Linked DNA regions of Homo sapiens. The protein of the gene in region 4 purifies or fractionates together with the protein of the main gene of each other region. This does not show direct contact. Each region holds a gene or a part of one and is shown on either strand. Other genes may lie near its edges.

Evidence for each region.
Region 1: the proteins of MANSC1 (region 4) and ATP7B purify together in Homo sapiens (affinity purification with mass spectrometry; 2 studies listed by BioGRID and IntAct, with this or other methods). This does not show direct contact.
Region 2: the proteins of MANSC1 (region 4) and TP53I11 purify together in Homo sapiens (affinity purification with mass spectrometry; 2 studies listed by BioGRID and IntAct, with this or other methods). This does not show direct contact.
Region 3: the proteins of MANSC1 (region 4) and MINDY1 purify together in Homo sapiens (affinity purification with mass spectrometry; 2 studies listed by BioGRID and IntAct, with this or other methods). This does not show direct contact.

The regions. Positions count from the first base shown.
Region 1 is NC_000013.11:52,008,370-52,015,879, forward strand, and holds the start of ATP7B (copper-transporting ATPase 2), read right to left. Parts: upstream 3,082-7,510; 5' UTR 2,969-3,081; coding exon 2,918-2,968; intron 1-2,917. Other genes in the region: ALG11 (GDP-Man:Man(3)GlcNAc(2)-PP-Dol alpha-1,2-mannosyltransferase), read left to right, coding at 4,050-4,093. UniProt on the Homo sapiens protein: Copper ion transmembrane transporter involved in the export of copper out of the cells. It is involved in copper homeostasis in the liver, where it ensures the efflux of copper from hepatocytes into the bile in response to copper overload.
Region 2 is NC_000011.10:44,940,799-44,947,929, forward strand, and holds part of TP53I11 (tumor protein p53-inducible protein 11), read right to left. Parts: intron 280-7,131; exon of another isoform or gene 205-279; intron 1-204.
Region 3 is NC_000001.11:150,996,831-151,003,961, reverse strand, and holds the end of MINDY1 (ubiquitin carboxyl-terminal hydrolase MINDY-1), read left to right. Parts: intron 1-993; exon of another isoform or gene 994-1,255; coding exon of another isoform or gene 1,256-1,344; coding exon 1,345-1,797; intron 1,798-2,132; exon of another isoform or gene 2,133-2,179; coding exon 2,180-2,237; intron 2,238-2,647; coding exon 2,648-2,712; intron 2,713-3,346; coding exon 3,347-3,505; intron 3,506-3,994; coding exon of another isoform or gene 3,995-3,997; coding exon 3,998-4,100; intron 4,101-4,450; coding exon 4,451-4,593; intron 4,594-5,688; coding exon 5,689-5,880; intron 5,881-6,182; coding exon 6,183-6,338; intron 6,339-6,594; coding exon 6,595-6,675; 3' UTR 6,676-7,127; downstream 7,128-7,131. UniProt on the Homo sapiens protein: Hydrolase that can specifically remove 'Lys-48'-linked conjugated ubiquitin from proteins. Has exodeubiquitinase activity and has a preference for long polyubiquitin chains. May play a regulatory role at the level of protein turnover.
Region 4 is NC_000012.12:12,333,152-12,340,282, reverse strand, and holds part of MANSC1 (MANSC domain-containing protein 1 isoform 1 precursor), read left to right. Parts: intron 1-1,722; coding exon 1,723-1,863; intron 1,864-7,131.

The DNA.
Region 1 (7,510 bases), on a different chromosome or scaffold from region 4:
GCTCTATTCTGCCGGCATCACTGATTAGATCATTGTCCACTGGTGATTGGCACAATCTCCAGAGGTTGGAGCACGGGGCTGAACATTCGAATCCCCTAATCACATGGTTGGTTCTTCTGGCAATCAGTCTCCATCCTGAAGCTATCTAGGGGCCTATCAAGAGCCCTCTCATTAACAGAAACTCAGGTAGGGGTGAAAGAGACTTGTTATGAATAACAAAAGATGCTCTTATCACCATCTCTCAGGAAATTACAACGGTTTAAGAAGCTCTATGTCAGGAACTTGGGACAAGACCAAGTATATATTTCTTCTTATCACATGACTGCCGTAGGACTCTCACACTTTATGGTTTCTCAACCTAGGCTACTTCTCTGAAATCTGAATCATTCAGGTCTCTACTCAAATCCTACCTTCCAAGAGAAATCATTCCCTGACCACCTACTTAAAACAGCATCTTCCTCTCCACCCATGTCAATCCCTATCTTATTCCCTTATTCTGCTTTCTTTTCTTTTCTTTTTTTTTGAGACAGGATCTTGCTTTATCACTCAGGCTGAAGTGCAGTGGTGGGATCACAACTCACTGTAGCCTCAAACTCCTGGGCTCAAGCCATCCTCCTGCCTCAGCCTCCCGAGTAGCTGGTTCGACAGGCACACACCATTATGCCCAGCTAATTTTTCTTTTTTTTTTGTATAAACGATGTCTTGATATGCTGCCAGGCTGGTCTTGAACTCCTGGACCCAAACTGCTTTATTTTCTTCATAGTACTTACTAGTACCTGAAATAAAGCTATTGAAGGAAACTAAAACATTTCACCTCAAAACAGACTTATTGGAAATATTTTGAGATGGCCGTTCAGAGGGCCTACAGACAAAAGTAGTCCTACTGTGAGGGAGATGAGCATCTGTTGAGAACCTCCATTGACGCAGCCAGTTTTTCTCAGAGGGCCCTTCCTTGTCTGGATCTGGGTGAGATTAGCTGAATTTGGCACCTTCAAGGTCTGAAACATTTCTTCTCCCTGAGGGCTGCTACCTGTGAGGTTTCATCTACATAAGACCACCTTTGCTAGCCAGGTCTCCTCTTCTCTCCCTCCTATAACCTGATTTACAACCATAACCTGTTTTTGGCCAAGCTTAGAGCCCCCACACTTTCTGTAACCTCAGGATAGTATAATTGTGGCAACCACCTTGCCTTCCTTTGAGATCTTATGTTGTAAGACTCTCACGGCACGTTAGTAAATGTGTATGCCTTCTCTCCTATTAATCTGCCATTTGTCAGTTGATTTTTCAGTGACGCTTCACGGGGCACAAAAGTTTTCCCTTAACTCCTACGCTATACATTTGTTTATCCCTTTTTTTTTCCTATCTCCAACTAGGATGTAAATTCATGAGGGCAAGGTCTCGGTCCTACCTAAATCCCCAGTGTCTAAAACTTTGAGTACTATGTGTTTGAGCACATAGTACACACAAAAAAATTTGTTGAATAAATGTTGATAACAAGATATAATACCTACATCAAAGGGTTTTTGTGAGGATTAAACGCGAGAGTGCACATAGAGGGATATGAGTGCCTAACACAATGCCCAGCACACAGTAAGCTCAATAACGCTGGTCAACGCTATTATCAGAGGATTCCAGAAGACAGGTCAACATGGGCAGGAGCAGTTACAGAACGTTTCAAGGAGGTGGCAGGTCTTGAGCTTGATTTGGAAGGATAATGATTTCTTTCTCTAGGTGGGGACACTGTAGGAAGTTGAAATCTCCTCTGTACAAGCCACCCCTCCCAACATTTCTTCATACTCCTATCAAATGCATAGTCATCATACCCTACAAACCACCTACTAACCAGCCTCTCTCTGTCTGTCCACTAATCCGTTAGTTTTCATTTCTGTATCACCGGAGCCTAGATGAATTCACTACTAAAGGGCACCCAGCAACGTCAGTGAATTAGTTTCAGAAATCTGTGGAAAAGAAACAGCCTACTGTTCTGTCCAGCAATCCAGGCCTAAGTATCTATCCTAAAGAAATAGTGTCAGCATTAAAAATCATGTACAAAGATGTTCACTTGCAAGAGAGAGAGAAAAAAAGTAGCAAACAGAACGTCCACCACTAGGAAACCATGAATAAACTATGATGCGTCCAAACTGTGCAGAGGTTGCACTGAATTAGACAGTTAGTGAAACAATCTCTAAGATATATCGTTAAACTGAAAAAAGAGAATGCACATACAGTGATCTCATTTAGGTAAAACAAAAATTTTAACACCTCATACAAATGAAACCTAAAGATTTCTCTGAATGTGTGCATATTACATATAGATACATGTCTTGTTAACCACTGTATCAACTCAACACTGTGTGCCTGAAACATAGAAAGTTCTCAATAAATATTTGCCGAATGAAGACATATGTACGTGAATAGAAAAAGACTGAAAAATAGATCTGCTTTTTGTGCAAAATATTTCTGTGCTGTTTCCATTTTTAAAAGACTGTCTTAATGTATTACTTGTACAATTAAAATGAATTTAAAACAGTTATAAAAGTTCCAGGACCTCGATATACCATATCTGGTCCAAGCACCAGGCTCTGAGTAACTTCTCCAGGTAACTAACTTCATCGTTTTGAGCCATTAGGGCTCTAGCACAGCAACTCGACGCTCACTTTATCTCTCCAGCATCAGACCCCTTAAAAGCATAAAGATGAATTTTGAGGTGCGGGGTTTTCCATTGCTCCCAAACATCAGTTGACGGCACACTTTTTCTAAAGGGTCCTTTTCTCCCACGCCAAGACATCCCTGGAGCTGGGGTCTGGCTCGGCCTTCCCTGCGCACCCCCTGGGGGCGAGTAAGCGCCGAACGCGGGGAGGAAAATCCTCCTGGTGGGAGTGAGCACGCTGCGCGGACGCGGGGGAACAAAACTCACTTTCCGACTGGCCCCTTCTCTGGCTGTGATCTGTCTCTCCTGCTCAGGCATCGTCCCGCACGGACACCGAATTCTTCTCTGATCTGGCTCAGAGCAAAAGGTCACCTGGTCGGTGGAGGAGAGCGGGGTGTTAAAGTCCCGGGAGAGGAGGCGCAGAGTGTGAGGGCATCGGCGCGGCTCGGCTCTAAAGCAAACAGGGGTCCGGGAACCGCCCCTTCATTTGGGACCGGGGAAGCCGCAGCCCTCTTCACACGGATGATTCAAAGTTGCGCGCCGCCGTCCTCCCGACCTGGGGGCACGGGGATGAGAGCGTGAGGGGAGAGTGGGCCTCGGACCCTCGCCCACTCCCCAGGTGGCTGGGAGTGCCCACCCTGGAACTGCCGGCCCCGCCGGTGCCACAGTGTTCTCTGCCGTGCCAGTGCCACAATGTCCTCTGCCGTGCCGGCGCCGCAGGGCGGAGGCCTGTCCTCCTCCGCGGTCTCGGCCACCTCGCGCTGGTGCGCTCCGACACTGTACTGGGATCTCACGCGTGTGCGGGAGCGGGAGGGCAGGTGAGCTGCGCAGAGCCGGGCCGCAGACTCAGCTCCCAGGGCTCACCCACCGCCTGCGGGGAAGGTGCCCGGCGGCGCCGCGTCGGGTCCGCTCTGCGCTGCCCCCTCCTCGGACTCTGCGCCTGGCTGCCGGACGCCGTGGGTCCCAAAGGAAGCAACCGCGGCAAGAGTGAACTCCGCACCTGGAAAATCGATCCGCTGTGCGCAAAGGCCAGCCAATGGCCTCCAACGGGCGGCGGGCTTTGGGCCGGGAACGGGGGCGCAGGCGCCCAGGCGGGGGCTTCTAGTGGGGGAGGTGGCCGAGGGAGGGAGCGACGGCTGTCAATCACAGGCCACGCCCTCCTCAGCCCAACCCCCCACTGCTGTCCCGCCCACGGGGGCGGGAGCCGTGTGCGCCACGCCGAACACTAGTCTACGCCTCGGCATATTCTATTGGCTGGAAGGCCGTGGGAAGCGGCTACCAGTAACCAATAGTAACGCACAATTGGCCCGTGGGGGCGGGGCGAGCACGGCTTGCTTTCTCAGGAGCCAATAGGGAAAAGGAAAGTGAAGCGTTTCCTGAGTTCGGGGGTCGGCGGAAGATGGCGGCCGGCGAAAGGAGCTGGTGCCTGTGCAAGTTGTTGAGGTGAGCAGCCGGTCGTGTGGGCTCACAGACGTTTTCTCTTCTGTAGGGGTACTTGCCCGTCCAGTGTAGCTAAATTTTGCGGGCAAATGGCCTTCCTTGTCATGAATCTAAGGTAATTTCTCAGGCCAATGAGCAGTCTTTCTTTTTCTTGGGGGTCTTCTATATAGACTGGAATAGACTAGGTCTTAAAGACTCAATTTACCGCGTTTTCTTCTGCTTCACTGTTGGCCGAGGGGTCGAGTTCCCTTCCCTGCTTCAGCTTTTTTTTTCCCTTTCACACTCCAGTTAGTCTGTCATAAATTATTCATATTCATTCCTTATTTTTCTTTACGATTGAGCCACGAGACATTTTCCAATCTATCATGTCTCTTTTCGGTAAAGAAGAAACCGGATCTTCCTTCTCATCTTAGTTTCTACTCTTAAACTCACCAAAACTGCCATTGTTAACACGTCACTTAAATATAAAGCTTATGTTGAATCCTCTGCTTTTTGATAATCTGTTACTTTAATTTTTATGATGTAAGAAGTTACATAAAATATTATTTTATTTGTATTACGTGTATATGCTGTTTCTTCTAGAAAAATTAGAAAATAGATAAGTAAAAGGAAAAAACCCCAGGAATGCTACCATCCGGAGATAGCCACTGTTAACATTTTGGTGAAAAAACTCCCAGGCTTTTTTCCACCTTTGTTGTTGTAGTACTACTGTATTTTAAATGCCTTGCCCTCCACTAATAAAACAGAAGGCCTAGTATATTCTACCTACCTAGTTTTTTTACCACCTACATATTTTTGTTCAGGCTGAAAATTTATAATTAACACCATAGCTTCCTGAATAGCAGTATATACCTAATTCTTTCAAAAGTTCAGGCATTTCTTCTTCGTTTTTGTCCACTCTACTTCAAATTCTGTAATCATTACTTTAAACATTTTGAATGAGAAAGTCTGTTATCAGAGCCTTTTGGTTCTTCCCTGTCATACGTAATATTCCTCAGTGCTTTACATTATAATGTTTAAATAAACTCACTAACCAGACTTAAAGGACAGGTTTAACTTTAGTTATTATGCAGCTTTTAAGTTAAATGTTTAATAGTTCAGTTTGAAAAGCTTGTCACATGAATTTTCCCACCTAAATTATTTGAAGGAATTGCCAGAAAAACCTTTACATTATATGGGTCAGCTGCATTTTAAATAAGCTTTTGAAAGAGTGTCCTGAGAAAGCAAACTGTCCTCTGTAGTGTTGCTTTTATGAATTCATATATTCCAAATGTTAAATAAATGATAAATCTTACCACTTTTGTCAGACTCTGTTCATCCTTTAAGGCAGTGGTTCTCAAATTGTGCTCCATGGACCATGCAGGTCCCAAGGCCCTTCAATGGATCCTCAACAAATCTGTTTTTATAATAACATTAATGTAATATTTGCCTATTTTACTATGTTGATAAGTGCAAAAGTGATAGCGGATAAAACTAAGTGATAGTGGATTTTAATTAACAGTGTGAAAAGGTCATTGATAGGGTTTCAGAGTCTGTATTGCAACTGACATTAAGAAACTGCATAACTTGTCAAATGTGGTCTAGCATCAGAGAAGAATATCTGTAACTAGCTGAAAAGTTAAATATATTTTAAACATAAGATCAATATATATTAAAATATACTCCCTTTTCCTACTACATGTCTAAGTTAGCCTGAATTTTCTTCATATACTTCAACAAAAACAACATATCACTAGATTGAATGCAGAAACAGAAAGGAGGAGCCACTATCTGGTTTCACGTTAAGCCAGACATTAAAAAGATTTGCAAAAAGTGTAAATCATTGGCACCCTTCTTGCTAAATTTCTTTTTTTGGTTTGGAAAAGATAGTTTTTTAATAAAAATATGTTAATGTGTTATGAAAGAATTTTTATTTTCAAATGAATTCATAAAAAGTTTAAAGTTCTTTAGTTTTCATTTCTAATATGCTAAATATTGGTAGATATAAGCAGTGTAAACCACTGGTTCTCAACCAGGGGTGATTTTTGCCCTTCGCAAGACATTTGGCATTTGGCAATATCTGGAGGGCTTTTTTTTTTTAATTTTTTTTTTAGAGATAAGAGTCTTGCTCTGTTGCCCAGGCTGGAGTGCAGTGGCATGATCATAGCTTACTACAGCCTTGAACTCCTGGGCTCAAGCAATCCTCCCACCTCAGCCTCCCAAAATGTTGGGATTACAGGCATGAGCCACCATGCCCAACTGATAATTTTGATTGGGAGGGTGCTACTGGCATCTAAGTGGGTCAAGACCAAAGATGCTACTAAATATAATACATAGGACAACCTCCGCAACAAATAATTATTTGGTCCAAAATGTCAGTAGTGTCAAGGATGAGAAACTCTGATGTAAACAAAAGCTCTATTGTATCCTCAGTAAAATTTTTAAGAGTATAAAGGTGTATAAAGAATATAAAGACCAAATTATTTTAGACCAATTATTTCAGCTTTGAAATAAAGTGCTCATGTGGGATTTCAAATAGAGTCAAATACCTCTTCAAGTACACAGTAGGAAATCCCACATGAGATTTGTTCACAATAGGAACAAATGAGGATTTGTTCACAATAGGAAATCCCACATGAGAACTTTATGTCAAAACTAAATATCAATAAAATATTTACTTCTGGCCAGGTGCAGCAGCTCATGCCTGTAATCTCAATGCTTTGGAAGGCCAAGGCAGGAGGATTACTTGAGGCCAAGAGTTTGAGACCAGCCTGGGCAACATAGCAAAACCCTATTTCTACAAAAAACATTTTTTTAATTAGCTGGGTGTGGTGGCATGCACCTGTAGTTCCAGCTTCTCAGGAGTCTGAGGCAGGAGGATCGCTTGAGCCAAGGAGTTTGGGGCTGCAGTGATTGCTATGATTGCACCACTGCACTTCAGCCTGGGTGACAGAGTGAGACCCTGTATCTAAAAAAAGCAAAATTTACTTTTCTGATGAATTTGTATGTTTTCATGTGGGCAGTGAAAACTATGTGATATGGTTTGGCCGTGACCCCACCCAAACCTCAAGTTGAATTTTATCTCCCAGAATGCCCACATGTTGTGGGAGGGATCCAGGGGGAGGTAATTGAATCATGGGGGCCAATCTTTCCCATGCTATTCTCGTGATAGTGAGTAAGTTCACGAGATCTGATGGGGTTTATCAGGGGTTTCTGCTTTTGCTTCTTTCTGATTTTTCTCTTGCTGCCACCATGTAAGAAGTGCCTTATGCCTCCCGCCATGATTCTGAGGCCTCATAGCCATGTGGAACTGTAAATCCAATTAAACCTATTTTTGTTCCCAGTTTCGAGTATGTCTTTATCAGCAGCGTGAAAATGAACTTGGTACCATAAATTAGTACCAGTAGAGTGGGGTGCTGCTGAAGAGATACCCAAAAATGT
Region 2 (7,131 bases), on a different chromosome or scaffold from region 4:
GGACTTTCAGAGAAAGCATCAAACTGTTTCCCAGAGCAGCCATGCCACTGCGTGTCCCTGGCAATGCAGTAGTGTTCCAGTTCCTCCACATCCTCACCAACACTCGGTAAGGTCGGTCTTTATTTCAGCCCTTCTACGAGCTCCTCCTGGCTGGTTAACCCCTCTCCCAGGCCAGACGTGCTGCCTCCCTCAGTCCTGCCTTACCTCTTCCTGCTGTGTGGCCTTGTGCTCTGAGTCTCGGTTTCCTCATCTGTGAAATGGAGCCATCATTCCCACTTCCTAGGGAGCCCGGGGCAAAAAGAAAAGCTCAGAGCACTCAGCAAAACACCTGCACATTTGCCTGAGGAATCCGCACTTAGTGAGGTCTACTGTGAGCAAGGTACATGGGTGGTGGGACAGGCCCCCTATCCTGAAAGAGCTCCCAGCCTTGGCCGGGGGAGGGGGCGCTGATCTGCTAGCCACTGATTAGAGCAAGTTACTTTTCCTCTCTGAGCTCCGGGGTCCTCATCTGTGAAACGAAAACAGCCAACCTCACTTTTCCCCTACAGCTGGTCTCAGGAGAAACAAAATAATGGACAGACAGTGCTTTAGAAAGAGCCAGCTCACTGCTCAAGCCAGAAGGCCTAATGGGTAAGTGCTTAACTGCTGAGGACGCTCCCTGGATTTGAATCCCAGATCCATCACTGCCTGGCTGTGTGCCCGTGGGCAGGTCAGTCACTTAACCTCTACGTGCCTCAGTCTTCCCAGGTGTAGTTGGGAAAATAAGGTGTCCTATCTTATAGAGATACTGTGAGAATAAAAGCTGTAATCTCCATGAAGCCATGGGGAAGTGCCTGGCCCACAGCAAGTCCCCAGTGAAGACAGGCAATTATCAGACACAGACACTGCCACCCTCCCCAGGCCTCCCATGTGGCAGTGGCACCAGGATGGAGGCCATGGAGGAGTAGGAAATGGATCTAACTAACACTTCTTAACTTCTCCGCCCCACTGGGCAAAGCCCCAGATCTCAGTCCCCGGGCACAAGGCTGGCGCTCAGCCACTGCCCACCAGGCCCAGGCTGTGTCCACGGCCCACCTCCGAGGGGCAGAAGCTTCCAGGCATTGGATGCATTGCTTTCCTCTGCCTGCTGACCCCTCTCCACCAACACATGCACACACACGCACACTGCACACACAGTACACACACACACACACCACATATACACACCATACTCACGCCACACACACACCACACACCACACACATACACACCACACACACCACACACATACCACACACACACCATACAAACTACACACACCACACAATACGTGCACACACACGCCACACAAACCCACCACACATACATCACACACACCCACCATACACAATGCACACACAAAACACACACACACCACACATACCCACCACGCACACACACCCACCACACACCTACCACACACCACACACACCCACACACTACACACACCCACCACACACATCACACACACCACATACCACACACCACACCCACACCACACATTACACACCATAGACACCACACACACACACCCCCACAACACACCACACACAACCATACACACACACCACACAAACCACAAACACCACACACACACCACACACACACACCATACACACACACACACACACACACACACACACACATACACACACAGAGCATTCCCCTCTGCATCCCAGGACGGAGTCAACAACAGCTGCTGCAAATCAACGGCTGTGGGACGTGTCAGTGCCCACCTGCTGGGGCTGGGAAGAGTGGGCACTACAGTGTCCTGGACAGAATTACTCATGGGTGGGACAATCTTCATCCACGGGCACTGCCATCAGACATCTGAGCTGGTGGGAACCACTGTGCCCACCTCCCAAGCCCACCCTAGCAGGGAGGGCATCACTCACAAAGGGCCCATGTGGCCCCACAGAGAAAATGGAATCTTGACCTCCAGGGAGGAGGGCCCCACACCCACCTTCCAGCACAGATAACTGCTCTGAGAACGGCGCTCCACCCCTACTTCACCCCCAGGACTGGGCCCTGCAATGATCAGATCCACCCAGCAGCCCCTCACCTGCCCCACTGGCGAGGCAAGCTGCACACACCCCTGAGGTCTCCCCTTGACCTTTCCTCCCCTTCAGGGCCACTCCAGGTGTTTATTTCAGGCCTAAGTGAGGACAGAAGACTCCACCGTGCACTATGGCCAAACCCCGGCTTTGGGGGCAGGGGACCTGGGTTTGAGTCTTGGCTCTGCCCTCTTGCCAGCTGCATGGCTTTGTGCAAGTCACTACACCTCTCCTAGCCTCAGTTTCCCCTCTTGTGAAATGGGGGTAGTGAGAACGCTCACCTCGCAGACGTGCTGGTGGAGAGAGAAAGAAGGAGTGCACGTGGGCACCCATGGGGAAAGTGCCCTGCCCAGGGAGGAGTCTGGCCCTCCTTCCACTTCCCTTTCTCCACTCAGCCGTGCACAGTGGAAAAAGCCTGCCATCAGTGCTGTGAAGCTTCCTGCTCTGCCCCACTGCCTTCTGAAGGGCCCCCGGGGGTTTCCCCCAGGAGCCAGGCTGCAGGAGGCTGGGGGCAGGGGCAGCAAGGACAGCCACTCCTCCACCCACATCACCTGTCTGGCAAGAAGGGAGGACATGGCTCCTAGGGCCCAGGCCTGGGATCCTGAACCTTTCCCTTCTGCCCTGCCAGCTGCTCTCGCCCACATTCCCGATCAGCCAGCAAACCTTTCAACAGTGGTTCTCATTGCTGACCCTTTACACAAGTGAGAAGGTCCCTGGGACACTCTGTCCCCCCACCATGCTCCTTGTTCCTCCAGGCTATCTTGCACACAGCCCCTCTTCCCAGGGCCCTCCCAGGGCACTGGGTCCTCATCCTCCTCTGGACTCTCACGGGTCTCAGTGTCTGCAGCCACTGGCCACTTATAGCCTCTACTCCTGGTCATTTCACGGCAGTTTGACTCCCCAAGACCAACCAGTCTGAAGGTATGGCTTGTACTGTGCTCCTCCGTGTATCTCCCCGTGAGGCTGGGGTGCACAGCAGGCACTTTGTCAACACAGGTGGAATGAGCAGCTGTCAGGCTAAGCCCAACCAGCACACTCAGAAGCCCACAGGTTAGACGTGGCGGGCTGAGGGGAGGCTGTGCCCCAGGCCACATGGAAGCTGGTGGCATAGGGCAGGAAAGGGCTTTCCAATTAGGCAGAACTGGGTTCAAAAGTGGCCACTCTCTGTTGGTCAGGTGGCCTTAAGCGAGCAGTCTCAGCCCTCAATACAATGGGGATCACACCACAGCGCCTTACTTGCCTTACTCATGGGGTGCTGAAGACTCCAGGAGATGGGGTGCAAATGCTCTTGGCAGAGGACCTGGCAGTGGGGGGTCTGGACAGCCGTGAAGGTTAGAGGACTGGATGAGAACACTGGCCTCTGACATTGCCCCACCTCCTCAGAAAGCTGTGGCATCACTCGCAGGGGAGTGCCCCAGGGCAAGGATTTCTTTGGGTCTTGTTCTCTGAGCCTGGGACAACTCCGGGCACAGGAGGAGTTCAACAGGCATTTGTGATTGAATGAATGAGTCGGGAGGAGCTAAGAGGCCCTCTTCAGCCAAGATCTGACTCCCTGCAGTCCCTCCCACCTCCCCATCTGCTGTGGAATCTGAGGCCAGGGAAGAGCACCTCCACATGCTTCCCAGGGGCGAGGCGGGAACAAGCAAAGTCCCCAAGACTAAACCAGCCAGGAAGAGAGGGGCTTTTTGGGGATACAAGAGTCAGAAGAGGATGACAGACAGGGAGGTGGTAAGCATATTTGTAACGATTGGGAAAACTTGGGCTCAAATCCCTGCTCCTCTTTATTGCTCTGTGACCTCAGGAAAGTTACTTAACCTCTCTGAGCCTCTATGTCCTCATCTGTGAAACCAGACTACTACTTCTGTACAAAGCCCACAGGTTTGTGATGTGTGATGATAAGAAAGTGCAGCTGAGGAGCCTGGCCTCTGGTGTGTACTCTGTAAAGGACAGCAATTAATAACATGAATAAGGTGGCTGCCCAGGCTCTGCCCTGGCCAGATCAGATGGGACTGAGGCGTCATTCCCATGCAGATCCTGGAGGACTTCCCCAACCCCCTGTCTCTTTCCCAGGAAGCCTGGTTTCTATAGAAACAGATGGACTGCCGAGCTGTCCCCAGCATGAAGACTATGCCCGTGAGGGCTGGCTTAGGAAACCTGACTGGCTGGGGGAGTGGGGAAGATGAGGGAGGGAAGAGGAAGGGGCCCAGAACATCCATCAGTGGCCAAGCCTCCCTGTGAGTCAAGGGGGAGTCACTGCTGCTGCACACCTCAGCCAAGGAGCCACTGCCTTTCCAAACAAGAGCTTCTGTGATAGGGGCAGGCAGCACACCTGTTCCTCCACCCCTCATAAGGAAGACTGCCCCCAGGGCCACCTACCCCGGGGCTGGGAGGAGCGGGGCAAGTACTTCAAGACCATGAATCCCCTGCTATCCCCACCACAACCCTATGAGAATGGCCATATTATCACCCCCATCTTACACATGAGAAAACGAAGGCTCATGTGACTTATTCGAGTGTCCCTTGAGGTAAGTGGCAGAGCTGGAATTCAAGCCAAGGTAACTGTTCTTTAACTGGACATCCTAAGAGAAGCTGATGTGTGTGTGCAATGTGTGCGGTGGTGGGGGTGGGGGGGCGTTTGGTGGACGTGAACTGAGCTCTAACCCATCTTCCCCATGGCAACTCCCCCGGAAAGTCCCTGGTGGTCGCCAGCATCTGGACTCCTCTCTGGGGTCCAGCCTCCCTTGGGTTAAGGCCCTGCGACTCCAGCAGGACTTGGGGAGGGATGCAGGGAGACCCATTGTTCTGTTATCGCTTTAGTACAAAATAGCTGGAAATGGGGTCTGGGACAGGGCAACACAGAGTTGGGGGGCGGGGTGCTGGCAGTGAGAGCCAGAGCCTCAGGCCCCCGGCCAGAGAGAAGGGGAGGCAGGAGAAAGAATCTCTGCTCCCTGGAGGGCGGGACGGAATAGAAGGTCCAGAGCTTGCGTCATCCGCTCCAGCTGCGGTCCCTCCCAGGGCTGCCGTCGGCCCCTTGGGCAGGATGGAGTCTAGAGATCCCCTAGCCCAGAATCTATTGCCTGGGCCATCAGGCAGTGAATCCACTTGTCAATGGCTGTACTGGAGAGGCTTAGGGACTAAGGGACTTGTGTTCAGATCTTGGCTCTGCACTACTAGGCTCGTGCCTTTGGGCAGACAAACTCCTCTTTGAAGGAGCCTCCCTTCCTTCCACCGTAAATGGGGCGGTGGTCCCTGAGTCACAAGGCTGTCCGGGGGCTAGAGAGATAATCTAGAAGTCATGGGACACAAAAGAGGCTTTATGAAAGCGGCTGCACTACTGACATCCTCACAGCGGCCTCTGGGGTGCAGGTTTCATCGGAGGCCCACAGCTAAGGAGGAAGCTGAGGCGAGGCTACCCGGTGGATGGGCCTTGGCTGGCTCCAGCTGGCTTGCTATCAGGCCATCCCTCGAGAGCATCATTATTCCAAAGGCTGGGGCTGCCTTAGTCAGTCTTGTCTCTCAAGCAGATCCTGAGCCAGTGGAGGGCGGAGCTGCAGCATCCGTCTTCCTCATCATCTCAGCATCACCACTGGGCTCAGTGTCCAGGCTGCTGCAAAGAGTGAGGACAGAGCGGAACTGGCCGGGAGAGGCAGGCGCAGGATGCGAGTCCCGTGGCAGTGGCAACCCCCGTCTCCATGACACAGCTCTGCAGTTGAGAAAGGTTCCACGCCCCATTTCCAAGAACCTCCAGGAACATGTGCCCTGAGATCTGGTAGTGGAAGGTTTGTCCTGGAGCTGGAAGGTGGCAGTGTGTCCTGAGTCACTGGGCTCGGAGACAGGACAGCTGAGGTCACAGGCAGATTCTGCCATCACTGGTAAGCCAGGCCCTGTCTTTGGGGCTCAGTTTCTTTGTCTAAGAAAATGAGAATGTGGTCTCTAGGGCCCCTCCCAGCCCTGCCTCACAGCGGCCACACTCCAGGTCCCTGCTGGGCCCCAGCTCAAGCTGCCTCATCCCCAAGACCCGCCACCCCTCAGCCTGGACTGGCACACAGGTCCTATCTTCCTACTCTTTCTTTTTGAAGGGGCCCAATTTCCAGAAAGGCAGAGGAAAGCCCAACCTTTCATCAGAAACATTTCCAAAGCTTTAGGGACAAATATGAACATTCCTTACTGTGCTGAAGAGGGCGAGAGGTCAGGGCAGAGCAGGTGGCAAGAAGGAGGCATTCCTGGGCTCCTCCCCCGGGGGTCTGAAGCTGCTGCTGTGGGCAAGGGGATCAGGCCCTCTGATGGCCTCCATCACCGCTCAGAAGTCACTGGGAGGTTTTTCCTGTCTCGACGGTCATTCACATGGGCAGAACATGAAGAATTCCTGTCCTTTTCGACTCTGAGAATAGGCCAGCCTGCCCCTTGGCCCAGTGACCATGTCAGGGCCCTCAAGGGCAGCTGGTGTCGTCATCAGGACAGCCTGACTTCCAGATCCTATCGGGCTAGGGGTCTGGTGAGAATGCAGCAGGCACCTCCCTCTCCGACCTGCACCCCACTCTCCCCATGCCCCTCCCCCACCCCGTGGCTGTTCAGGAACTTAGAGGGGAGAAGAGGGTGGGAGAGGAAGGGAGAGGAAAGGACAGGAGCTTCCTCGAAGGGATGCTCCACATTTTGAGCCCGTTTCTTCAAAAGCAAGCGGTGATTTGTCTTCTGGGTGAGTTGGGGGAGGCAGGTGGAAGGGTCCCTGCCCTTTTCGCAGGATAAGATGGGCCACAACCATAGTCCAGGACTGAGTGTCTCCCCAATCCTGGGGTGCTGGCTTAGTGGTTAAAGGACTAGCTCATGACTTAAAAGGCTTGTGCTCCATCCTGGCTCTACCACTGATGAGCTGTATGCCTTTGGGCCAGTGACTCTGCCTCCCTGGGCCTCAGTTTCCTCATCTGTTAAATGGGGTGTAATAATGACACCAACCTCTCACCAGTGAGAAGATGCACCAAAAAAATCCAGAACAGCGCCTGTTTTGTAGTTAATGTTCAATAATAATGCTGCTCATTATTTTTAGACTAGAAGACTCTAC
Region 3 (7,131 bases), on a different chromosome or scaffold from region 4:
AACAAGAGCAAAACTCTGTCTCAAAAAAATAAAAATAAATAAATAAAACCACTTGGATGGGAATAGACATAAAACTTTAGGTAGGTGAATGTACAGGAAGTATTGTTATGTAAATTAATAATCAGCATTTTCATATTTCATAGAAATAGCAGGCAAGAGAGTACCTCTGGGTTTAGGTAGTTTCTGGGGAAAAAAAATGAACTGAGGAAAAGTTGCTGTCTCAATGCTAGCTGTCAAGAGATGCTTACTGGGTCCAGGCACCGTGGCTCATGCCTGTAATCCCAGTCCTTTGGCAGGCTGAGGAGGGCGGATTGCTTGGGCCCCCAGGAGTTAAGACCAGCCTAGGCAACAAAGCAAGACCCTGTCTCAGTTTAATTAAAAGAAATTTGATATCTTTATTAATTTTTTTTAAAGAGAAGCTTACTGGAAGAACTTGTGGGGAGTGCTTTTTGTGCCCCTAATCTGAAGTTATTTATCAAAACCAGTCTCTGATTCCAGCCCCCACCACCTACATTTCCCCTCCCAGCTTACAGGAAACCCCTCCCAAGGCCTTTATACTGTGGTTTGGGATTGTGTAAGGTTCAGTAGAGCCCTTTGAGGTGGAAGACTTCCCCTTCCTCACCAGCATTTCACCTTTAGGGGCATGAAACTGACTCTCTGTGCCTCCTCCATTCTTCACCCCAAGTACTATGTGACTTAATCTTTTTATCCTTGGGTGAGGCAGAGAGAAGGTATCCCTAAACATACAAGCACTGTGTATTCTTAGTATGTTGTGTGAAGGGGCAGGGTGTGGGGTAGGGCAGAGGAATTATCTCTGTCATGGCTATGAGGGGGTTACTGATGTGATGCCTATTAGAGTAAGCTAAAGATCATCATATTAATAACCATTAGCGTAGATTTAACATTTCTTTCTCCACCTCTTATCCTTCTTTCTCCTTTGTGCTCTCCCTTTCTCTCTGTCTTTCCTCCCTTCCCTGTCATGATCTGTTTCAGGGAAGCTGACTCCACCCATGTGTTCAATCCCACCAGTCTTCCCTCCCAAGTCTGGAAGCCCCACGACCTCTTGGTCTCATCTGGTCACAGCAAGTTAGAGGTGGAAAGAGCTCAGCACGGGGCCCTTCTGTTTACACATATACTGCCCATAGCCAGGAGTTACTGCACAAACACTAGCCAGCCTTCTACACTACATTCCTTTTCCAAGACTTTTCTGGGTTAGTTTGCTTTCCAGCCCACTGATTTCCTTCTTATTGGACAGGTCACTCTTTTGCATCCCAAGCCTGGCTTAGGCAAGTCCCTGAGGTTAGTAAACACCTTCAGTGCCCCTCAGCCAAGTCCCTTTTGACCATGGAATACCATCAGCCTGAGGATCCAGCCCCTGGTAAGGCCGGGACTGCAGAAGCAGTCATCCCTGAAAACCATGAGGTTCTGGCAGGCCCAGATGAGCACCCTCAGGACACAGATGCAAGAGATGCTGATGGGGAGGCTAGAGAACGGGAGCCAGCAGACCAAGCTTTGCTGCCTAGCCAGTGTGGGGACAACCTTGAGTCCCCTCTGCCTGAAGCTAGCTCAGCTCCACCGGGGCCAACCCTTGGGACACTGCCTGAAGTAGAGACAATAAGGGCATGCTCCATGCCCCAGGAGCTTCCTCAGTCCCCCAGGACCCGACAGCCTGAGCCAGATTTCTACTGTGTCAAGTGGATCCCTTGGAAAGGAGAACAGACACCCATCATCACCCAGAGCACTAACGGCCCTTGCCCTCTCCTTGCCATCATGAACATCCTCTTTCTTCAGTGGAAGGTAAGAGAACATGCAGTTAGGGGTGCAAAAAATATCAGGGAGTACTCTTCCCTGACTTACTTCCTTGATCATCCTGATGTCCTCAAACTAGTCAAAACTTTTCAGATTGTTCTCCCTATTTCTCCAGCTTGAGCAAATGAGATAAGATGTTCCTAAAAACAAAGAAAAAAAAAAAAGAGGAAGATCTGTCCTACCCCTGTATCTCCTACTCCCTAGCAAATGCACATGCCTTGCAAGATTTCACATTCATTCCCTTGTGCCAGTTGCAAGCCTTTTTTCCTACCCCACCCTACTACTGGAGCTCCCCCTTGCCTTTCCATGGGTTCTTCCTTCAGTGCTCTTTGGAGGAAAGCACACACGTGATCACCCCTTCTGCCTCCAGGTGAAGCTCCCCCCGCAGAAGGAAGTGATCACATCGGATGAGCTCATGGCCCATCTTGGTGAGTGACTGGGCGTTGAAGAGGAATTACCCAAGGGGCTCCAGAGCTATCCACTCAGCCAGAAATCCAGACTATTCAGGGATCTCCATTTGGGGGTTCTGATACAGCAGGGAGGGTAAGGGTCTATGGGGCTTCTCTGCAAGGCTGGAGAATGAAAAGCAAAGGCGTCGGGAGTCCTGGGTTGTAACACCAATTCTGCCCTTAGCTTTTGTATCTGACCCTGGGTGGGCCGTTCACCTTTATGAGGCTGTCGCCTCCTCTGAGAAATGAAGAGTCTGGATTAGACTCTAAGTATTTTCCAGCTCTGAAAATCTGTGTTCTGTGACATTACCCGCATTCTCCAGGAGAAGAGGAAACTTAGCTTTTGGGATGATTGGTGGGGTAAGCTGATAAGGGGCCCTGTCTTGTAGGAAACTGCCTCCTGTCCATCAAGCCCCAGGAGAAGTCAGAGGGACTTCAGCTTAATTTTCAGCAGGTGAGGCAAAAGGTCTGCAGGCATAGGGGTTTGCAGGTTTGTAAGGGGACATCTTGTAATACTAAGATAAGCTTTTGTTGCTTCTTCAGAGGTTTCCTTGAACCATGATTTCATTCTGCAGGAGTCAGAGGAGAGTTTATCTTTGTCCTAGAAAATATGTTCATTGGCCGGGTGCTCACACCTGTAATCCCAGCACTTTGAGATGCCAAAGCGGGAGGATCACTTGAGGCCAGGAGTTCGAGGCCAGCCTGGGCAACATAATAATACCCCTGTCTCTAAAAAAAACCATTTTTTTTTTCAAGAATTAGCCAGGTATGGCGGTGCGTGCCTGTAGTCCCAGCTACTCAGGAGGCTGAGGTGGGAGGGTCACTTGAAACCAAGAGTTTGAGGCTGCAGTGAGCTAGGATCACACCACTGCACTCCAGCCTGGATGAAAGAATTAGACTTAGACTCTCAAAGAAAAACAATGTTCATTTATATAAGATAGAGAAGGGTTGAGGCAAGGGAGAAATGGAGTGGCTTGTAAGAGAATCAGGGAAGAAGAGCAGCAAGGTTAATTTTTAATTTCTGCAGGTGGGAGTGGAGTGGTGGGAGAGAAGGCTAGAATCTCCATCATTTTTTTTTCTACCCCCAGAATGTGGATGATGCAATGACAGTGCTGCCTAAACTGGCCACAGGTCTGGATGTCAATGTGCGATTCACAGGCGTCTCTGATTTTGAGTATACACCCGAGTGCAGTGTCTTTGACCTGCTAGGCATACCTCTGTACCATGGCTGGCTTGTTGATCCACAGGTGAGGGTGGGAGGGCCCACTGGGACCTTATCCAGCTCAAGCTGACATGAGAGAGGCAAATTTTTGTCGGGTAGAGGTTAGGGAGTTAGGGGTTAGATTGGCTTGGGAGGGAAATAGTGTTTAGAGACTGGACCCAGTACAGAATTCCTTGAATTTTAATCTATTTTGGGGGTAACATGCAAATACAAGCAAACTACATGCAAATAGGTCAGTTCTTTAGACATCAAAAATTCAGGAAGCAGATGGGTTTGGTGGCACATGCCTGTATTCCCAGCTACTTGGGAGGAGTTCGAGGCCAGTCTGGGCAACATAGCAACCCTATGATGAATGGTTCCTGAAATTTTTTTCTTTTTTGAGAGACCAAAAAAAAAAAGTGTTTAGGAACCATTCATCACAGGGTTGTAGTCCTTGTGAGCTTTGTTCATTTCCTTCCTTAAAAAAGAAAAAAAAATCCCAATTTTTTTGGTATCCCACATCCCACTACCCAAGCAGAGTCCTGAGGCTGTGCGTGCAGTTGGGAAACTGAGTTACAACCAGCTGGTGGAGAGGATCATCACCTGCAAACACTCCAGTGACACCAACCTCGTGACAGAAGGTGACATTCCTCCCCTTCTCATGGATAGTATGTGGAGGGAATGACAGCTACTTAGGCTTATTTTTTATTGGGTGTCATCTCCTACCACATCCCACTAGATATAAGCTTCACAAGAAGGAGCTTGGGGAATTTCTGTTTAGTTCATTGAGGTATCCCCAGTGCCTGGCACAAGGTAGCTGCTCTATTATAAGTATTTGTTAAGTGAATGAATACAGCCAGGTTTCAAGAAAGGGACGTCAGAAGGTGGGACTGACCCCCCGGGGCTTTTGACAGGGGCTCTCTGGATGGTCCTTCCTGTTGTGGACCTTGAATTTAAGCCAAGTTTCCCCCGACTCGTCCCTTTCTGGCAGGCCTGATTGCAGAGCAGTTCCTGGAGACCACCGCGGCCCAGCTGACCTACCACGGACTGTGTGAGCTGACAGCAGCTGCTAAGGAGGGTGAACTTAGCGTCTTTTTCCGAAACAACCACTTTAGCACCATGACTAAGCATAAGGTAATGCGAGTTTGGGGGTGGCGTGCTGCGGTGCTGTCATTTCCTGGTGCCTTTTTCTCGTGGGTCCAGCTGGGATCAGCTAGATTAAGCCGTGGTAGCAAGTGACCCCTCAAATCCCTGTGGTTTACCACAACAAAGGTTCATTTCCCGCTCCTGGTGCGTGTCCACTGTGGACTGGCTACGGTTCTGTCCCACACCATCTTCACTCTGGGACCCAGCTGACAAAAGATCCTTTATCTGGAATATATGTGGGAACAGAGAGAGAGAGGGGCACTGTGCACTCATGCTTAGAGCTTCTGTTTGGAAATGACACATGTCATTTCTGCTCACATCTTCTGGCCAGAGCAAGCCATAAGGGATAAGCCTGCCGTCGATGGGACAGGAAAGTATGATCCTCCCCTAGGAGGGGGCAGTGGAATTTTTAAACAATGCTGGTCTTCAAAAGTTAGAAACTGCCAAAGCTCTCTAGGATTTGAGCAGCAGAGGGAGGGGTCTCTGGTTCTCAAAGGATTTATCCTAAGAGCCATCAGGCAAGCCCAGAGAACAATGGGAAATGGGGGGAGCAGGGTCTTATGTGGCATCTCAGCCCCAACGACTCCATGCCACGCTTAGCCAGAATGACCACCGTGCTCACACCCAACTGGACATACACTCAGACATCCCTTTCTTCCCCCCAAGGCCACACATATTTGTAAAAGGTCCGCATGCTCAGGGTCCGGGTGCGGTGGCTCATGCCTGTAATCCCAGCACTTTGGGAGGCCGAGGCGGGCAGATCATGAGGTCAGGAGATCGAGGCCATCCTGGCTAACACGGTGAAACCCCGTCTCTACTAAAAAAATACCAAACATTAGCCAGGCATGGTGGCGGGTGCCTGTAGTCCCAGCTACTTGGGAGGCTGAGGCAGGAGAATGGTGTGAACCTGGGAGGCAGAGCTTGCGGTGAGCAGAGATTGTGCCACTGCACTCCAGCCTGGATGACAGAGCGAGACTCCATCTCCAAGAAAAAAAAAGTCCACATGCTCATACCGAGATTTCTGGCAGTGAACTGCCTCCGTATCAACTGTCCCCCCAATGAGCTCTGTTCTTTTCTTTGTAGAGTCACTTATACCTACTGGTCACTGACCAGGGCTTTCTACAGGAGGAGCAAGTCGTATGGGAGAGCCTGCACAATGTGGATGGAGACAGCTGCTTTTGTGACTCTGACTTTCACCTGAGTCATTCCCTGGGCAAGGGGCCTGGAGCAGAAGGTGGGAGTGGCTCCCCAGAAACGCAGCTGCAGGTAGACCAGGTGTGTAGGGCACTTAGGAAAAGTGCAGAGAGCACATGTGCCTCAGAGAGCTTTTTACTGCATACATTTTAACTGCTAGAGGCCATGTGAACCCATGCCTCTCTCTCTGGGTTACCTCAGACCGTCTCCTCACTTGGTGTGTATTCTCTGGCACCACAGATAATGCATTTGGCTGTGTGTGCTGCTCTGTGGGGAGAAAGAGCTAGAGAATTTGAGGGATGTGGGAAAACTGATTTGGAAACCTTGCCTGAATAGCCACGGCTCTGGGCCTCAGCCCACTGCACAACTCTTGTTCTCCCCAGGACTACCTGATTGCTCTGTCCCTGCAGCAGCAACAGCCACGAGGCCCGCTGGGGCTTACCGACTTGGAGCTGGCCCAGCAGCTTCAGCAAGAGGAGTATCAACAGCAGCAGGCAGCGCAGCCAGTGCGGATGCGGACGCGGGTCCTGTCACTGCAGGTGGGCTGCTGCCTGGGCGCCCACACTCCCGGTTTCCACCTCATGCTTTGCCGGGTCCAGAACACCTGTTATTCCTGCACTGGTCTCTTCAAGGTTTCTTCTCTCAGAGTCCTTCCCCTGCCTGTCCCTCTCCCCTGGAGCCCCTTCCTGTCTTCCTCTCCCTACTCTCTGTCCCAATCCTGACACCCCTTCTTCTAGAATCTCTTCTTGTGCTCTTCCAAGGAAGTTCAGTGACCAATTGTTAAATCCGATACAGGGGAGAGGAGCCACATCTGGACGCCCAGCCGGGGAGCGTCGGCAGAGGCCGAAGCACGAGTCAGACTGCATTCTGCTGTAGCTCTGCCCCAGTGCCAGGCTGGCCTGCCCCTTCTTCCAGAGGCTATGGCTAGTTGGCTTGCTCCCCCGCCTCCACCCCTGAGATGTGCTGGATAACTTATTTATGGACTGTTGGGGATGAGAGCAGGCAACAAATGCCAAGGTCAGACTTGGTAATGTCCTTGACCTCACGTGCTGCTGCCTTCTCTGCCTCCCATCCAGGGCAACACTAGGATTGGTGGGTTTCTGGTTCTCAACTCCCGGTCCCTGAATAGTCACACGTATGTACAGACTGAGGCTCTGGGGTGAGGTCCCTATCCAGAATGCATCTCTTCTGCTTCCCATCCCTGCTGCCTGGATGCTCCTGATCACCTAGGCAGGCCTGTCTCCAGTTGTTTCAGAGCTTAATTTGGGTTTCTATCTCTTATTTGTAATGCCTTCCTGGGGTTTGGAAATAAAACTTCTGGCCGGGCACGGT
Region 4 (7,131 bases):
TGTTTTTAACAATTAGCCTATGTGTCTCTTAACCTTCAGCCTGACCAGGGATACGCTGACCTCCCAAAGATGTGAGACTGTACCAAATGGAGGACAAAATCAAATCTAGGCCATGATGAATAGAGGGTTTAATTTCTGTTGGACACAAGAGGAACAGAAAAAGAAGCCAGCAGCTGGGTGCATTAGCTCATGCCTGTAATCCCAGTACTTTGGGAGGTTGAGGGGGATGGATTGCTTGAGCCCAAGAGTTCAAGATCAGCCTAGGCAACATAGTGAGACCCCGCCTCTACAAAAAACAAAAAATTAGCCAGGCATGGTGGTGCACGCTTGAAGTCCCAGCTACTGGGGAGGCTGAGGTGGGAGGATTGTTTGAGCCCAGGAGGTCAAGGCTGAAGTGAGCCATGATTGTTCCACTGCACTGCAGCTTGGATGACAGAGCAAGACCCTGACTCAAAAAAGAAAAGAAAAGAGACCAGAAATTATAGTTAACAGTGAAAAGTAAGGAAGGAAGGAACATAGAAAAGCAAATATGACAAGGAGAGAGGGGTAATTGGAAGAAAAACACAAAGAATGGTACAGATAAAAATTAAAAGATAGACTGTATTCCATATACTACTCAGATCCTGTGTGGAAGGAGCCATGATATCTATGATAATTTACTGACTCCACTCATGGCTTTATTAGGCATCTGAGATGCTTTCAGAATCCAAGAGATGGCCAGGTGCAGTGGCTTACACCTGTAATCCCAGCACTTTCAGAGGCCAACTAGGGCAAACAGCTTGAGCCCAGGAGTTCAAGACTAGCCTGGGCAATATAGAGAGACTCCATCTCTACAAAAAATACCAAAAAAAATCCGAGTGTGGTGGCTTGCATCTGTAGTCCCAGTTACTCGGGAGGCTGAAGTGGGAGGATCTCTTGAACCTGGGAGGTGGAGGTTGCAGTGAGCTGAAATCATGCCACTGCATTTGCACTTCAGCTTGAGCGACAGAGCAAGACATTATCTCAAAAAATAAAAAATAAAAAAAATAAATAATCCCAGTTTTGTAGGCAACATGCAAAGCATTGTGGGCAGGGGCCAGCAGAGCGCATGCCTCTTTCTCTCCATCAGGCCTGCTCAGGGTGTAACCTTGGCCACATCAGTGTCAGAGAGCCTCTTCACAGCCTCTTTGGTGCTTGCCGGCCCTGGCATCCACAGTGAACACCAGTGTGTGGTTGTCTTCTATCTTCATAGCACATCAGTAGTCAGGGCTTGATGATGGCAGAGTGGTCAAACATGTGGGAGCACTCTTCCCGGGATACTCGGGCTGCCTCTGGAGCCACAGTGTCTTGAGCTGCTGGAGGTAAGTGACATGCAGGTCTTAGGGGTGTGTGTGTGTGTGTGTGTGTGTGTGTTTGTGTGTGTGTGGTTGTGGATGCCTTTCAGCCCTGCCTTCTTGGCCTTTAAAGACTTTGCTTTGGCTTTGACTTTAGGAGGGACAGGAGCTTCCTTCTTCGCCTTCGGTGCCACCTTGTGAAAAAAAAAAAGCTAAACCCAATGTTTTTTAAAATTGCCTTAAGCAACTAAGCTAAGGAAAAGGAAATGATTCAGCGGTCAGCAAGCAAGTGAACAAAATGAACAAAGGTGTTTGTGTTGGACTCCATAATAAGTGAAGTTTTTCCTACTTGCCCTACTCTTTAGAAAATCGCATTTCAAAATCATGCTTATGAAACCTTTCATTGCAGGGGACAAAGCATGTAACTTGATGATCTTCGACACTCGAAAAACAGCTAGACAACCCAACTGCTACCTATTTTTCTGTCCCAACGAGGAAGCCTGTCCATTGAAACCAGCAAAAGGACTTATGAGTTACAGGATAATTACAGGTAATGAAAGCATTATACTTTTTCTTTTGTGATTGGAATAATTTAAGACTGGTTCATGTGAAAGATTTTCTACAAGAGTCTAAATAAAACTACCAGAAGGGGTACCAGACATATCAGAAAATCTCATGACTGGAAATTCAATTTATTAAACCAAAATTTGATTTCCAATGAAAGCCATGGTAGTATTTGTTCTGGTTTGTTTCTGTTTTTACCTTCATGAGATAAAAGACACACAAACCTTGTATGAAACGTTTTTGAAGCACCTCTTTAGAACAAGGTCGGCAACACTGGAATAAGTATACAGGTCTCCAGGGTGATTGTTTTGAAAGGGTGAAGACTTGTGTTAATATAGAAAGTTCTAGTATATTTGTTATTAAGTTCCCATTATAATCACATTATCTGAAATCAAACTTTTTATGGCCATACCACCCTGAACGCACCCAATCTCGTCTGAAATCAAACTCACTGGATTTTATTGTCTAGACTGGAAAGGAAATTCATTCAAGAAATATTTATTAAACATTTACCATGTGCCAGATTCTGTCCAAAGCACTAGAACTACAATCTCCATGTTCATGGAACTTACATATTAATTCAGAATGGAAAATAAATAGCAAAAAAATTAATATAATTCCTGGGATATGTTTTGCTGAGACTTTGGCTTGTTAATTTTTCAAGTTGAAGTGGTTTCAGTATCAATTTTTCTTTTTTTTGAGATTATCCATATAAAAAAGGTGAAAACAAATTAATGTTGCTTAGGTAATTCTGTGGACCCTTCATAGACAGTATTTGCATAAAATCAGAATTACAGAATTTAGTGGGGTTTGTTGTTGTTGTTGCTTGTTTGTTTGCTTTTTCCGAGATGGAGTCTCACTCTGTTGCCCAGGATGGAGTGCAGTGGTGCGATCTCGGCTCACTGCAAGCTCCGCCTCCCGGGTTCAGGCCATTCTCCCGCCTCAGCCTCCTGAGTAACTGGGACTACAGGTGCCCGCCACCACGCCCGGCTAATTTTGTTTTTGTACTTTTAGTAGAGATGGGGTTTCACCGTGTTAGCCAGGATGGTCTCAATCTCCTGACCTCGTGATCCGCCTGCCTTGGCCTCCCAAAGTGCTGGGATTACAGGCATGAGTGTTGTTGTTTTTTGAGAGAGAGTCTCACTCTGTCGCCCAGGCTGGAGTGCAGTGGTGCGATCTCAGCTCACTGCAACCACCACCTCCTGGCTTCAAGCAATTCTCATGCCTCAGCCTCCCAAGTAGCTGGGGTTACAGGCACCCACTACCATGCCCAGCTATTTTTTTTTTTTTGTATTTTTAGTAGAGATGGGGTTTCACCATGTGGGCCAGGCTGGTCTCACCTCCTGACCTCAGGTGATCCACCCTCCTTAGCCTCCCAAAGTGCTGGGATTACAGGCGTGAGCCACTACACCCAGCTTCAATTTTTCTTTTATTTAAGTTTTAGAAAGTTATCATCATACTCTTGATTTTTAATATTCTACTTGTTCATTTGTTCAATAAATAACAAATATTATTTAGCATCTCCTATGTGCCAAGTACTTTCTATGCCCTAAGGAAACAACACTAAACATGAAAAACAAGGTTCTGGCCATGTGGTAGCTCATGCCTATAATTCCAGCACTCTGGGAGGTGGGAGGATCACTTGAGCCCAGAAGTTAGAGACCAGCCTGGGCAACATGATGAGACCTCATATCCACAAAAAATTAAAAAAATTAGCCGGGCATGGTGGCATGAGCTTGTAGTCCCAGCTACTTGGGAGGCCAAGGCAGGAGAATTCCTTGAGACCAGGAGGTCAAAGCTGCAGTGAGCTGTGTTCATGCCACTACACTCTAGCCTGGGTGACAAAGTGAGATACTATCTCTAAAAAAAAAATAGGAAAACAAGGTTCTCCCTTCTGGAACTTATGTTTTAGGGGAGAGAGACAATAACCATAATAAATAAATAATCAAGAAAAATATAGTCACAAGTGCTATGCACAGAATTGAGACAGGACGGTATAATAGACAATCAGTAAGTAAAGTTGTAACCCCTAAACTGAGATCTGAATAGTGAGGAGCCAGATGTGAGGAGATCAGGGGAAGACCTTCCAAGTCCAAGGTCCTCAGGCAGAATGCTTTGGAGTGTTTGAAAAACCAACACTCCAATCCCAGCTGGTTGACTCATTGTGAAATACGCAGAGAGTGATATGCAAAACGGTGGGGAGGGCCAGATCACATAACACCTTGTAAGTCATAGGAGGGAGTTTTTTTGTTTGTTGTTGTTGTTTTTGAGACAGAGTCTCACTCTGTTGCCCAGGGTGGAGTGCAGTGGCGCGATCTCAGCTCACTGCAACCTCCGCCTTAGGAGGGGCATATGCCACTACACGTGGCTAATTTTTGTATTTTTAGTAGAGATAGGGTTTCACCACATTGGCCAGGCTGGTCTCGAACTCCTGATGTCGGGTAATCCACCCACCTCGGCCTCTCAAAGTGCTGGGATTACAGGCATGAGCCTCCGTGCCCGGCCGGGAGTTTTTAGGTGTGTGGTGGGAAGCTGTTGGGAGTTTTATTTTTATTTTTTTTTTGAGATGGAGTCTCACTCTTTTCACCCAGGCTGGAGTTCAGTGATGCAGTGTCGGTTCAGTGCCACCTCTGCCTCCCAAGTTCAAGTGATTCTCCTGCCTCAGCCTCCTGAGTAGCTGGGACTACAGGCAAGCATCACCATGCCTGGCTAATTTTTGTATTTTTAGTAGACATGGTCTCGCCATGTTGGCCAGGCTGGTCTCAAATTCCTGACCTCCTGACTCATGTATGTAATCCCAGCACTTTGGGAGGCTGAGGCGGGCAGATCACAACGTCAGGAATTCGAGACCAGCCTGGCCAACATGGTGAAACCCCGTCTCTACTAAAAATACAAAAATTAGCCGGGTGTGCTGGTGCGTGCCTGTAATCCCAGCTACTCAGGAGGCTGAGGCGGGAGAATTGCTTGAACCCAGGAGGCAGAGGTTGCAGTGAGCTGAGATTGCGCCACTGCACTCTAGCCTGCACGACAGAGCAAGACTCTGTCTCGGGGAGAAGAAAAAAAAAAGGTGATTTCTCAAAGCTCACCGTAGCCGCCCTCTTGGGAATGGACAGTGACACAGCAGCAAAGTGGAAATGGAAAGACTGGTTAGGAGGCGCAGGTGAGATCTGGGTGAAGAAACAGGGAGTGGCGGGCGAGATGGAGAGAGTAGTGGACATATGGGCTATTCCGAAGTAGAGTTGACAGGACTTGCTGGTGGTGTGGGTCTGGGGAACCAGAAAAAAAGAACCATCAAGGCCAAGTCCTAGTTTTTGCCTTGAGCATCCAGATGAATGGTGACACCATTTGCTGCACTGGGGGAAACTTGAGTAGTTTTAGGGTTGTGGAATGGAATCTAGGTGGAGTGGAATCTAGGGTTCTCTCTTGACTGCATTAAGTATGAGGGGCTTCGGGGAATGATACTGCCCAGGGTGCCTGCGTGTTGACACTGCTTTGCCCCCTAGCTGAGGCTGTGTCTGAGTTTTGTTCATGTGCCAGGGAAGCCTGATGGGTCAAACATCCTCTCAAACAGGAGCGTGAAGCACAGAGTATTGTGTAAATAATTGTTGTTAGGATACGATGATAGAAATTACAGCTGAATTTGTTTTCTAATACTTCTGGAGTGTTGTTACTTTTGTAATGCACATATAAAAGAGCATGTATGGGATGAAGTTCCTTGCCAATGGGAACGGAAAAAAGGGAACTTGGCATGTGCATAAATCTTTTTAGGGCGAGTGTGAAGGTAATGAAGTGAAATTAGAATTAAACTGTTCTTGTGGCAGCCACCAGGGGGCGTTGCCGGCCCCTGAGCAGGTTGATGGACACCTAGGGGCAACGTGGCACCAACCCCGGACATAGTATGCAAAGGACTGTTTATATCTACAGGATGTGTGCAAGTTGTGTTTGTAATTCTGTGTATGAATCTGTCCATGTTGATGAATTCATATTACCCCATTAAAAATGAATTATCTGCCTCCTGCCTGGAGTGAAATTAAATACAGATTATCTGTTTGGTGGTTTGTTTCTGGAAGAACTCTATTTCTTTTTCTTTTCTGTCTCTCTCTCTCTTTTTTTTTTTCTTTTTTTTTAAGGCAGCATCTCACTCTGTTGCCCAGGCTGCAGTGCAGTGGCGCGATCATGGCTCACTGCAGCGGCGCGATCATGGCTCACTGCAGCCTCCACCTCCTGAGCTCAAGCAGTCCTCTCCATTCAGCCTCCCAAGTATTTGGGACTACAGATAATGCACCACCATGCCAGGCTAATTTTTTAAAATGTTTTGTAGCAATGGGGGGGTCTCAGTATGTTGCCCAGGCTGGTCTCAAACTCCTGGCCTCAAGCAATCATCCTGCCTCGGCCTCTCAAAGTGCTGGGATTACAGGCATGAGCCACCGTGCCCAGCCTCTATTTCCTATATCCCATTGACTAATATTTACGGACCAAGAGTTTGAAAGATGACAGTGGATTCTGTTCATTCTCTAAAGCCATTGCAGTTTGGTATTTAATCTTTTATTGTTGTTGTTGGCAGCTTCATGGCATGTCATTTTTACCAAGGACTGGAAGAATAGGAGAATTCAGACATAGAATAAATTGGGAGTCTGTTTGCTCAGCTGGGGTCCCAGTAATAGTCAGTCTCTCATTTTTCAACTCAGTGAAGTCGTTTGAAAATAAAACTCCAAAGAGGAGTTAAGGGCGCTGAGCTGCTTTGCAGCTCCCTTTGTGGCTCATCTCTGCGTGACTGAGAGGAAGCACCATGCCCCAATGGCAAACATGAGTGGGTGAGGCGAATGGAGCAGGTGTGGAGGATCCCTTTGTGGTTCTAGGACCTCTGCCAACAGAGGAATCTTATCAAGAAGTGGGACTGGCCCTAGCTTTGCTTTATTTATGAGCTTGCATGCTTGAGAAAGAAAACAGCTGTTTTGGCCATTCTTGTCAATGGCCATATTTAAGTTCTGATTTCACACACATCACAGAGTGTTTACTTAAACAGTCTTTTTCTTTTTTAACTTTAAAATGAATTATAGGCCAAGTATGATGGCTCACACCTGTAATTCCAGCACTTTGGGAGGCTGAGGTGGGCGGATTGCTTGATTCCAGGAGTTCAAGACCAGCCTGGGCAACATGGCAAAATTCTGTCTCTACAAAAAATACAAAAATTAGCTGGGCATGGTGGCATGGCATTGTGGCCCCAGCTGCTCAAGAGGCTGAGGTGGGAGGA